2 linked regions of the Homo sapiens genome follow. The protein of the gene in region 1 purifies or fractionates together with the protein of each later gene. This does not show direct contact. Each region holds a gene or a part of one and is shown on either strand. Other genes may lie near its edges.

Evidence for each region. Proteins that work in one complex are often made in the same cells at the same time.
Region 2: the proteins of HIKESHI (region 1) and PPT1 purify together in Homo sapiens (co-immunoprecipitation; one large-scale study listed by IntAct). This does not show direct contact.

What each region holds. Positions count from the first base shown.
Region 1 is NC_000011.10:86,342,366-86,347,593, reverse strand, and holds the end of HIKESHI (protein Hikeshi), read right to left. Parts: intron 2,992-5,228; coding exon 2,873-2,991; exon of another isoform or gene 2,501-2,872; coding exon of another isoform or gene 2,500-2,500; exon of another isoform or gene 2,011-2,499; coding exon 1,956-2,010; 3' UTR 1,651-1,955; downstream 1-1,650. UniProt on the Homo sapiens protein: Acts as a specific nuclear import carrier for HSP70 proteins following heat-shock stress: acts by mediating the nucleoporin-dependent translocation of ATP-bound HSP70 proteins into the nucleus.
Region 2 is NC_000001.11:40,090,753-40,095,315, reverse strand, and holds part of PPT1 (palmitoyl-protein thioesterase 1 isoform 1 precursor), read left to right. Parts: intron 1-2,808; coding exon 2,809-2,918; intron 2,919-3,143; coding exon 3,144-3,271; intron 3,272-3,916; coding exon 3,917-3,987; intron 3,988-4,563. UniProt on the Homo sapiens protein: Has thioesterase activity against fatty acid thioesters with 14 -18 carbons, including palmitoyl-CoA, S-palmitoyl-N-acetylcysteamine, and palmitoylated proteins. In contrast to PPT2, PPT1 can hydrolyze palmitoylated proteins and palmitoylcysteine.

The sequences.
Region 1 (5,228 bases):
ATCTTCTGTAACCCAGCCGGCATTATTTATGTCAACACCAGGTTTTTACCTGCCTCCTGTACACAAACCTACCTTGCATATATAGAATAATTGTTAGATGTTCAGATATTTAAAGCCCTTTTCTTTCCAGCATATCACGTGTCTCCGAGAATAACCAGAAACTTCCAAAATAAGGCAGGTATAGGCTACTCAGGAAAGCTCCCAGAAGTGATGACTCCTTATGCATACTGTGCAAGATACTATTCTAGAAGTAAGAATAATACTAGAAAATGTGGCCCAAAATTTCACTCCCATCATCTGCTCTGGAAGCCCAAGAAACTAGTTTAAATTCACTACAACCCAAGATTATCATGAATAATCATATATTCTTTTGATTTCTTAGCAGACCAAGGAATAGTTTGTGTTTACTTAGTATTTCCTGTTGTATCACTACAAAAATCACTGGGAAGAGGCTACCTGACTGTAGAAGAGGCACAACTGAACTTCAGGATGTTTTTTCAGCTTGGGTTTGGCAATCTAGGTCCTAGATACAAGTTGTAGTACATGAATAATCATTTTGCTTCTGGAAATTGTATTGCAATTAGCTGATGTTTTCTGTGCAGAGTATTAAAGACTGTTGTGTAGCCATTGCCAAGTCTCATGATTCAACAATTGCTATGGTTTGAATATTTGTCCCTTCCAAAATTACGTTGAAATTTTAATCCCAATGTGGCAGTACTGAGAGGTGCGGCCTTTAAGAGGTGATTGGATCATGAGGGCTCTGCCCATAGGTTAAGTTATCACAGGAGGGGAACTGGTGGCTTTATAAGAAGAGGAAGAGTGACCTCAGCTGGCACAAAAGCATGCTCAGCCCCCTCACTGTGTGATACGCTGCACTGCCTAAGGACTCTTCAGAGTCTCCCCACCAGCAAGAAGCCTCTCACCAGCTGCAGCCCCTTGGCCTTGGAATTCTCAGTCTCCATCATTGTAGGAAAAAAAAAAAAATCCTTTTCTTTATCAATTACCAACCCAGCACTTTGGGAGGCTGAAGTAGGATTGCTTGAGCCCAGGAGTTCAAGCCTAGTCTGGGCAACACAGTAAGACTGTGTCTCTGCAAAAACATCAAAAAAATTAGCTGGGTATGGGGGTGCACGTCTGCAGTCCCAGCTACATGGAAAGCTTGGGGCAGGATGAGCACTTGAGCCCAAGAGGTCATGGCTGGAATAAGCTGTGATCACGCCACTGCACTAAAGCCGGGACAACAAAGCAAAACTTCGTCTTAAAAAAAAAAAAAACATTTAAGTCAATAAATTACCCAGTTTTGGGTATTGTTATAATCAACAAAAAATGAACTACTAACCATCCATTAACAAGAAGAATCCTATATTCTACACATAAATGCCTACCAGTATTAAATAAAAGCTCACCAATATGGCAATTTTATTAAACTTATATGAATCTGCAGATATAAAAAGTGACAGCCAACCTGTATTAATTGGAAAAACTGACAATCTTAAGAAATAATCTCTGAAAATAATTTCTCCATATTTAAAAATGTATACTTCATATGTTTTTCAAGTCTCCCAAATTTTGAAATAGGTAATTGAAAAGTTAACTACTCCAGCAAACCATTGTTTCATTTCAATAAATGAATGATTACACATGCAATGGTACTTGGCACACTACTGTTTGGTATAGGTTTTATTTTTAAGTAAAAAAAATGAATCATAGCCAAAACAAAATGTCTTGCCTTTGAATGGTATTTTAAGCTTAAGGGGAAAAAAGTCTTTAATGATGAACATATTTTCATTTTTCAATGTTTTTAATTTTTAATAAAGATTTTTAATTAAGCTTCAGTCTCTAAGCAGTTTTTAAACTTAGGTTTCGTGATCCTTTGACCTCATACTTTTAGATGGAGTCAGTTATCTTCAAAACATGACAAATTTCAGAATCCATTAAAAATTATTTTATTCAAATTATGTTTTCCAAAAGAGAGGGTTCTGTGCTAGTCGTCTTTGAAAGTTTTCATACCTAGAAAAGAAAACACATATATTTACATTCACAAGAAAATTAAAATAGGATCTTTCATTAACTGCCAAATGACTTATCCAAAACAATTTTACATGTCATTTCTAAAAAGCTATAAAAAATCTAAAAAGATAATCTGGAAATGTAATTATTCTTATAAAAAGACAGCAAGCATAGGAATTTAAATATCGGGGCAGTTTTGATTAGCTTTTATCAGAGAGCACAAATCATAAGAAATTTTAGTAATTGTTTATCTTCTGCAAATTTAAGACCTAGAAGGGACCTAAGGAAAAAAATCAAATTCAACTCCTATTTCCTCATTCCACAGATGAGCAGATGAGAGAAATTTGCTCAGGGTCACATAGCTACATTATGCCAAAATTCAAACCTAGTGCATTCCAATGCTCTCCATGCTACACCATGGTACCACTTCTCAACAAACTCTTCCTAGGCATCCTCCCATCTCTAGGATACTCAAAGTGAAAAGAAATATCTATAAAACACGGGAAAGTTGGAAAATAGATTCATTAGCCATTCATGTACACAGTGCAGTATAAACTACTCTCATAGATGGTACTTCTAAATGAAAATACACAAATATTTATAAGCTTTAATAGTGGTCCCTAAAACATAGGCAACTATATTTTCCTGTCTTTATAAATTCATAATGGCGACAATATAACAAAATATTTAGGGTAAGAACTGTTTCTCATCAGATCTCTATAGTACATACTTTAATGGCATGCAGTGCTGATGTTCACAATAAAAGAATATGTTTAAATGTCAAAAAAGGAATATATTCATAGACAAAATAGATATTCAGTTATAAAAAGCCTTAATATTGGAGACAGAAAATGCCTCATACCATTTCAGAACCACATTTGCCGGAATGAACATTTCAGATGGGCTTGGTGTCATCTGGGCCTGAGAGACAGCAAATGATGAAGCAAAATTGTAGAAATTGTCCAACATCTTTTGTGTGAACTGAAAAGTTAATAATAGATTAATGGATTATACTGAATACTTCATTTAGAACTCAATATTTTTAAATTAAAAGTGTTCTCACATTAACTTGTTTATAGGGAGTGTCAGTTCTAAGAGAGTCTAATGCTGAAAGCTGGCTGGGTGCGGTGGCTCATGCCTGTAATCCCAAAACTTTGGGAGGCTGAGGCAGGAGAATCACTTGAGGCCAGGCATTCAAGACCAGCCTGTGCAACATAGTGAGGCCCTGTGTCAAAAAAATAAAATTAAATAAATGAATAAAAAAGAATGTTAAGAGTAATCATACATACAATGACACTGTGAAATATGCTACTCACTTTGGGGAAAAAAAAAGAAAAAAATTTTTCTTCAAAATATTTTCTTTCATCTCCATGTCTGCATCCACTATGTCCCTCCTCAATTATCACTCTCCTCAAATCAACCTATTTTCTCATATAAAATAGTAACCATCTCTAAGAAGTCTTTTACCTGCCAGAAAGATAAGAGTTTACATATTATAAAGGAGCAACTGGTTATTTCCATTGCTGGAAAGAAGATAAAGGCAGCACTATTCCATTTCCTCTGTTTCCTAATCTGTTTCCCTTCCTTGACTCTAAAATGATCAAATTCACTAACATACTCCAAGTCTCCTTGGTAGAAGCTAGAAGTAAATGGACTCACATTTCCTGAGAATCAAATGGGCTTAAGTACTAACCCTAAAAGTAACTGAACTTCTGAAGATAATACTACCTTCTACTCACTCAAAAATAACCTTTCCAGCATCACTTTCTCAAATATACAAAATCAGCCATGCCTTCTCTTCTCTACACAAGAGAATTGGTCTTATTAGGTTTTTTTATTCAGTTGTTGAATAATATGAAGGCAGTATAATCCAAGAGACTCTGCTGCGAAGGCACCTGATTAATATCAAAAGTTCAGTAAAGTCACTAACAGTTTCTTCGTTTGTTTTTGAGACAGGGTCCCACTCTTTCACCCAGGCTGGAATGCAGTGGCACAATCATGGCTCACTGTAGCCTTGATCTCCCAGGCTCAAGTGATCCTCCTGCCTCAGCCTCCCAAGTAGCTGAGATTATAAGCATGCACCACCATGCCTGGGTAATTTTTTATCTTTTTATAAAGACAGGGTCTCACTATGTTACCCAGGCTGGTCTCAAAATTCTAGGCTCAAGCAATCCTCTCACCTCAGCCTCCCAAAGTGCTAGAGTTACAGGCATGTGCCACTGTACCCAGACTAAAGTCACAACTAAAAGATCAATATTAGGAAAAAAAAAAAAAATCAACAGCAGTCCTCCACACCAGTGACAATAATTTTTAAGTGTAACTGAAATCTTTAAAAGGATTCCATTCAGAATATAAACAAAGCATTTTCTCCAATACCTAGAAAAAATGCTAAGACAAACTAGTAAGATTTTTGTGGAAAATATTATAAAGACTACTAAGAGACAGAAAAGAAAACAAAAGGACCTATATATACCATTTTCAATGGAAAGATATACCATGTTCAATGGAAAGACATAACATGTCACATATGGAAAGACAATGTGGTAAAGGTGGCCAATTCTCCCCAAATTAAACCCATATATCCAATGTTATTACCAACAAAATTCCAACAAGGTTCTTCATGAAACTTGACAAGCTAATACTATTTAATGAAACTCAACAAGCTGATATAATTATTATGAAGAATACCTACACAATTATTATGAAGAATACCTATACATATTTTGATGACTGTGAGGAGGAACTTGCCCCACTGGCAAAGAGACAGGCAAATAAACTAATTGGAATAAAAGAGACAGCCCAGAAATAAACCTAAGCATATATGACAAAGATGCTATTACTCATGGTAAAAAAAAAAAAATGGGACAAATTACTCAATTCATGGGGCTAGGACTAGTTTTCCATAAGGGGAAAAATGAATTTAATTCCCTTACCATACTGCACACAAACATATTCAAAAAGTAAACCTTAAGGCTTTAAGAACTGAAAGACAACATCTTAGGCTCTGCTTGAGGCCAGGAGTTTGAGACCAGCCTGGGCAACATAGCGAGACCCCCAGTCTACACACACACACACACACACACACACACACACACACACACACACGAACATCTTTATATCTTTACATATCAGGACAGAGAAGGATTTCTCAAACATTAAAAAACCCACAAATCCACAAATCATAAAAGAAACAATACATTTATCTATATACAAATATA
Region 2 (4,563 bases), on another chromosome or scaffold:
ATTCCATTTGGAGGTGGAGGAAATGAGGAGAAACTAGCAAAGGAGGCTGTAACCAAATAGCCGGTGAAGTGGAGGGGTCAGGAAAGCGCAGTGTCCTTGAAGCCAAGTGAAGAAAATGTTTCAGGAAGAAGGGCATGATCAACTGCATCAAATGTTGATAGGTCATGATCAACTGTATCAAATGTTAATGGGTCAAGGAAGATAAAGGCTGACAACTGATTATTGGATTTAGCAATATAAAGATGATTAATCTTGACAAAAGCAGTTTTGGGAGAGTCGTGATAGTGAGATCTTTATTGGGATGGGTTACAGAAAAATATTCAGAGTAATTAGAGTCAGCAAATACAAACACTTGCAAGGTTCTCCAACAGGCCCTGGGGCTACTACAGTGGGGTCAAAAGAGGACACAGGGTAGGAGCTTTGTGTTTTCCCAGAGCTCACAGTCAGTTACAGGGGAGGCAGAGGCAGTTAAGTAACCTACAATTACAGCTCAGTGTGGAGAACGTTGTTTTCAGAGAAATAAAAGGAATAGACAATTCTCTAGGCAGTAGCCTTTTCTTGTTCTAAAATTGGTGCTTAAGCTTTCTCGCAGGTTGAAAATGGAATAAGTAAGTTCAAAATGGGAAATGATCTCAGTCCACTTCTACTCAGTAGCCAGTTTGCTTCCTGTTCCTAGTTCTAGTTCCCTGAAATAGAAGAAACAAGTCTGGGGCTAGGACAAGATGAAGAGGCTCCTGAAGTGCAAATTTAAGGAGGCACTCACTCTCAAATTCAGGGTCAACACTTACATAAACCTGAGAATGAGTGCCTCCTTAAATTTTGTGCCCTAGAGCGGGGGTCCCAAACTCCCTGGGTCTGTGACCTGTTAGGAACTAGCCACACAGCAGGAGGTGAGTGAGCCTGCAGCCTTACCACCATGAGCTCTACCTCCTGTCAGATCAGCAGTGGCATTAGATTCTCAAAGAGCTCAAATGCTGTTGTGAACTGCGCATGTGAGGGATCTGGATTGGGTGCTCCTTATGAGAATCTAGCAAATGCCTGATGATCTGAGGTGGAACAGTTTTGAAAAATTGTCTTCCACAAACCTGGTCCCTGGTGCCAAAAAGGTTGAAGACCGCTGTCCTAGATGCTTAATTTGCCTCACCCTAGTCCTGGCCCTGAAGAGAAAACTTTGCATCTGTTCACCCCAAATATCCCCTGTGATAGGGGAAGGGAATGTGTACCTCTGCTTATTTTTCATTTGTAAATTTGGTGTCTTAATTATCCTATATGGGCTTTTTGGTTTTTTTGAGACAGGGTCTCGTTATGTTGCCCAAACTGGTCTCGAACTCTTGGCCTCAAGCAATCCTCCTGCCTCGTCTTACCAAAGCGCTGGGATGATAGGTATGAGCCCATGCTTGGCCTATATGGATTTTTTTTTTTTTTTTTTTTTGAGATGGAGCCTTGTTCTGTTGCCCAGGCTGGAGTGCAGTGGCATGATCTTGGCTCACTGAAACCTCCACCTTTCAGTTTCAAGCGATTCTCCTGCCTCAGCCCCCCAAGTAGCGGGACTACAGACATGTGCCACCACACCCGGCTAATTTTTGTATATTTAGTAGAGATGGGGTTTCACCATGTTGCCCAGGCTGGTCTCGAGCTCCTGACCTTGTGATCCACCCACCTCGGCCTCCCAAACTGCTGGGATTACAGACGTGAGCCATGACACCCAGCTCCTGTATGGACTTTTGAAGCTTGTTATTACTTGATAAACAGGAGCTAAGCAAAAAATGTTCTTTCTTCTGTTTTTTAAAATTGAGGTAAAAATTCATGTAAAGTTAACCATTTAAAATGGTACGATTCAGTGGCATTTAGTGTATTTGCAATGTTGTGCAACTAACACTTCTTTTTCAACACCCCAGAAAAACACACATAGCCATTAAGCAATCACTCCCTATTGCCCCCTCCTACTACTTCTTGATAATCTCCAGCTTAGTTTTCTGTATCTCAGTGGATTTGCCTGTTCTTTATTTATCCTATGAAAGGAATCATGCATTATGTGGCTTTTTGAGTCTGGCTTCTTTCACTTAGTATAATGTTTCTGAGGTTCATTCAAGTTGTAACATGTGTCAGCACTTTGTTCCTTTTTTATAACTCAGTAATATTCCATTGTGTGAATATACCACATTTTATTCATTCATTCATTGATGGACTGCTGGATTGTTTCTCCCTTTTGACTATTACAAACACTGCTGCTGTTAACATCTATATGCAAGTTTCTGCATGGACGTGTGTTTTTATTTCTTTGGGGTGTATAACTAGGAGTTGAATTGCTGAGTCATTTAGTAATCGTATGTTTAACTTTTTGAGAAACCACCAAACTGTTTTTCACAGTGGCTGCTTATTACATTCCCACCAGCAATGTCCAAGGGGTCCCATTTTTCTACATCGTTGACAATACTTGTTATTTTCTATTAAAAAATTATTATTAAAGACATCCTAGTCTGTGTGAAATGGTATCTCATCGTGGTTTTGGTTTGCATTTCACATGCCAGTGGTTAGCCATTTGTATATCTTCTTTGGAAAAATATCTGTTTAATTTCTTTTCCCATTTTTAAATTAGGTTATCTTTTTGTTGAGTTGTAAGTGAGTTATAGATTCCTTGTATATTCTGGATATTAAGCCCTTATCAGATAACTGTTTTGCAAATATTTTCTTCCATTCTATACATTGTTTTCACATCCTTGATAATGCTGTTTGAGGCCTCAGAGTTTTTAAACAATAAACAATATTTGGACTCATGAGTTTCCATCATTGTGTTTTGTTGGCTAGGAGACAGCTGTTGCAATCCCTTAAGCATGGGTGCTATTAAAAAAATGGTGGAGAAGAAAATACCTGGAATTTACGTCTTATCTTTAGAGATTGGGAAGACCCTGATGGAGGTAAGGCGCTTCACAGCTGTTCCTTTGAAGGGTTGCTGACTGATTTCATAGCATATACTGTTAAAATGCTTTGCCTTGTGTTTTCAGCAGCAGATCATACAGTGATACTTTCACCCTTGAGTGGCTCATGTGAGGATACCAACCTAAATGAGTTTACCTCTTAGAGAAGATGTCAGTGGTTGTTTTCAGTCCCATCCTCTCACTTCTCTCTGGCTTCTTTTTTAGGACGTGGAGAACAGCTTCTTCTTGAATGTCAATTCCCAAGTAACAACAGTGTGTCAGGCACTTGCTAAGGATCCTAAATTGCAGCAAGGCTACAATGCTATGGGATTCTCCCAGGGAGGCCAATTTCTGTACGTTCCTTTTTGTTATATTGTACCACTTATATGGAATTGATTTTTGTTTCTTTTATTCAGATAAATCCACTCCTCCAATTCAAGATTGTCACCTATCTTGGAAGGGAAATTTCCTAAAATGTTCCTGTGTAAGAAGCTTTATGGAACTTAATTTCTTTTCTTTTTTTTTTTTTTTTGAGACAGAATTTCTCTCTTGTTGCCCAGGCTGGAGTGCAGTGGCGCGATCTCAGCTCACTGCAACCTCCACGTCCCAGGTTCAAGTGATTCTCCTGCCTCAGCCTCCCGAGTAGCTGGGACTATAGGTGCTCACCACCACACCTAGCTAATTTTTTGTATTTTTAGTAGAGATGGGGTTTTACCATGTTGTCTAGGCTGGTCTCGAACTCCTGACCTCAGGTAGTCCACCCACCTCAGCCTCCCAAAGTGCTGAGATTACAGGTGTGAGCCACCATGCCTGGCTGGAGCTTAATTTATTTTCTATGAAAGTTGAAAGAAATATTTGCATTTGCCCATATCAGGAAAATCCTGAAACTCTGCGGGTTTGGGGAGTCACAGAGGATGACTAGCTTAATCTGTGATGCTGATTGTGGATGATACATTTCCATCTGACAGTCGGAGCTAAAACTCCCTTTTATTCCGTAGGAGGGCAGTGGCTCAGAGATGCCCTTCACCTCCCATGATCAATCTGATCTCGGTTGGGGGACAACATCAAGGTAACTTTGCCTCTTTGCTTTCTTTTTTCTGTATTCTAACCCACATGACCACCTGATTTAAAAAAAAATCTAGGAACTATATTTGCACAAGACATCAGCCATTCTTGCAAAATCCTGTTTCTCTAGCTTTTAACAAACTAGCCAGCATTGCTGGAGACATAGGAAGAGACTTAGGATTCCAGAGGCCTGGATCACTAGGTTGGCATCTACTTCTCTCCAATTTCATTGACACGATTGCATGGAAGTAAGATGGTTATAGCCACGTGGCAGGTGGTGGTTGAGGAGTTAGGAAAATTGAGTGACCTTTTCTGTTCTCTGATTTGGTGGTATCCTCTTGAATTTAGGCTTAGGCAAAGAATAGTGTGTAAGCTCTTGTGTCTATAAATTTAAACTCTTTGAGAAACAGCAGGTTTTCTATTTTGACGGAATTCCATACTATTGGGGAAGGATGTGTCATTAGAATGGAATTTCATCTCTGTTGTTGATGGGTATAGCTATTAGCTGGTATAATGTGGGAGCAGAATGATTCTCCGTGTAATCAGGAAACCTGGACTCACCCAATTAACTATTACTCCT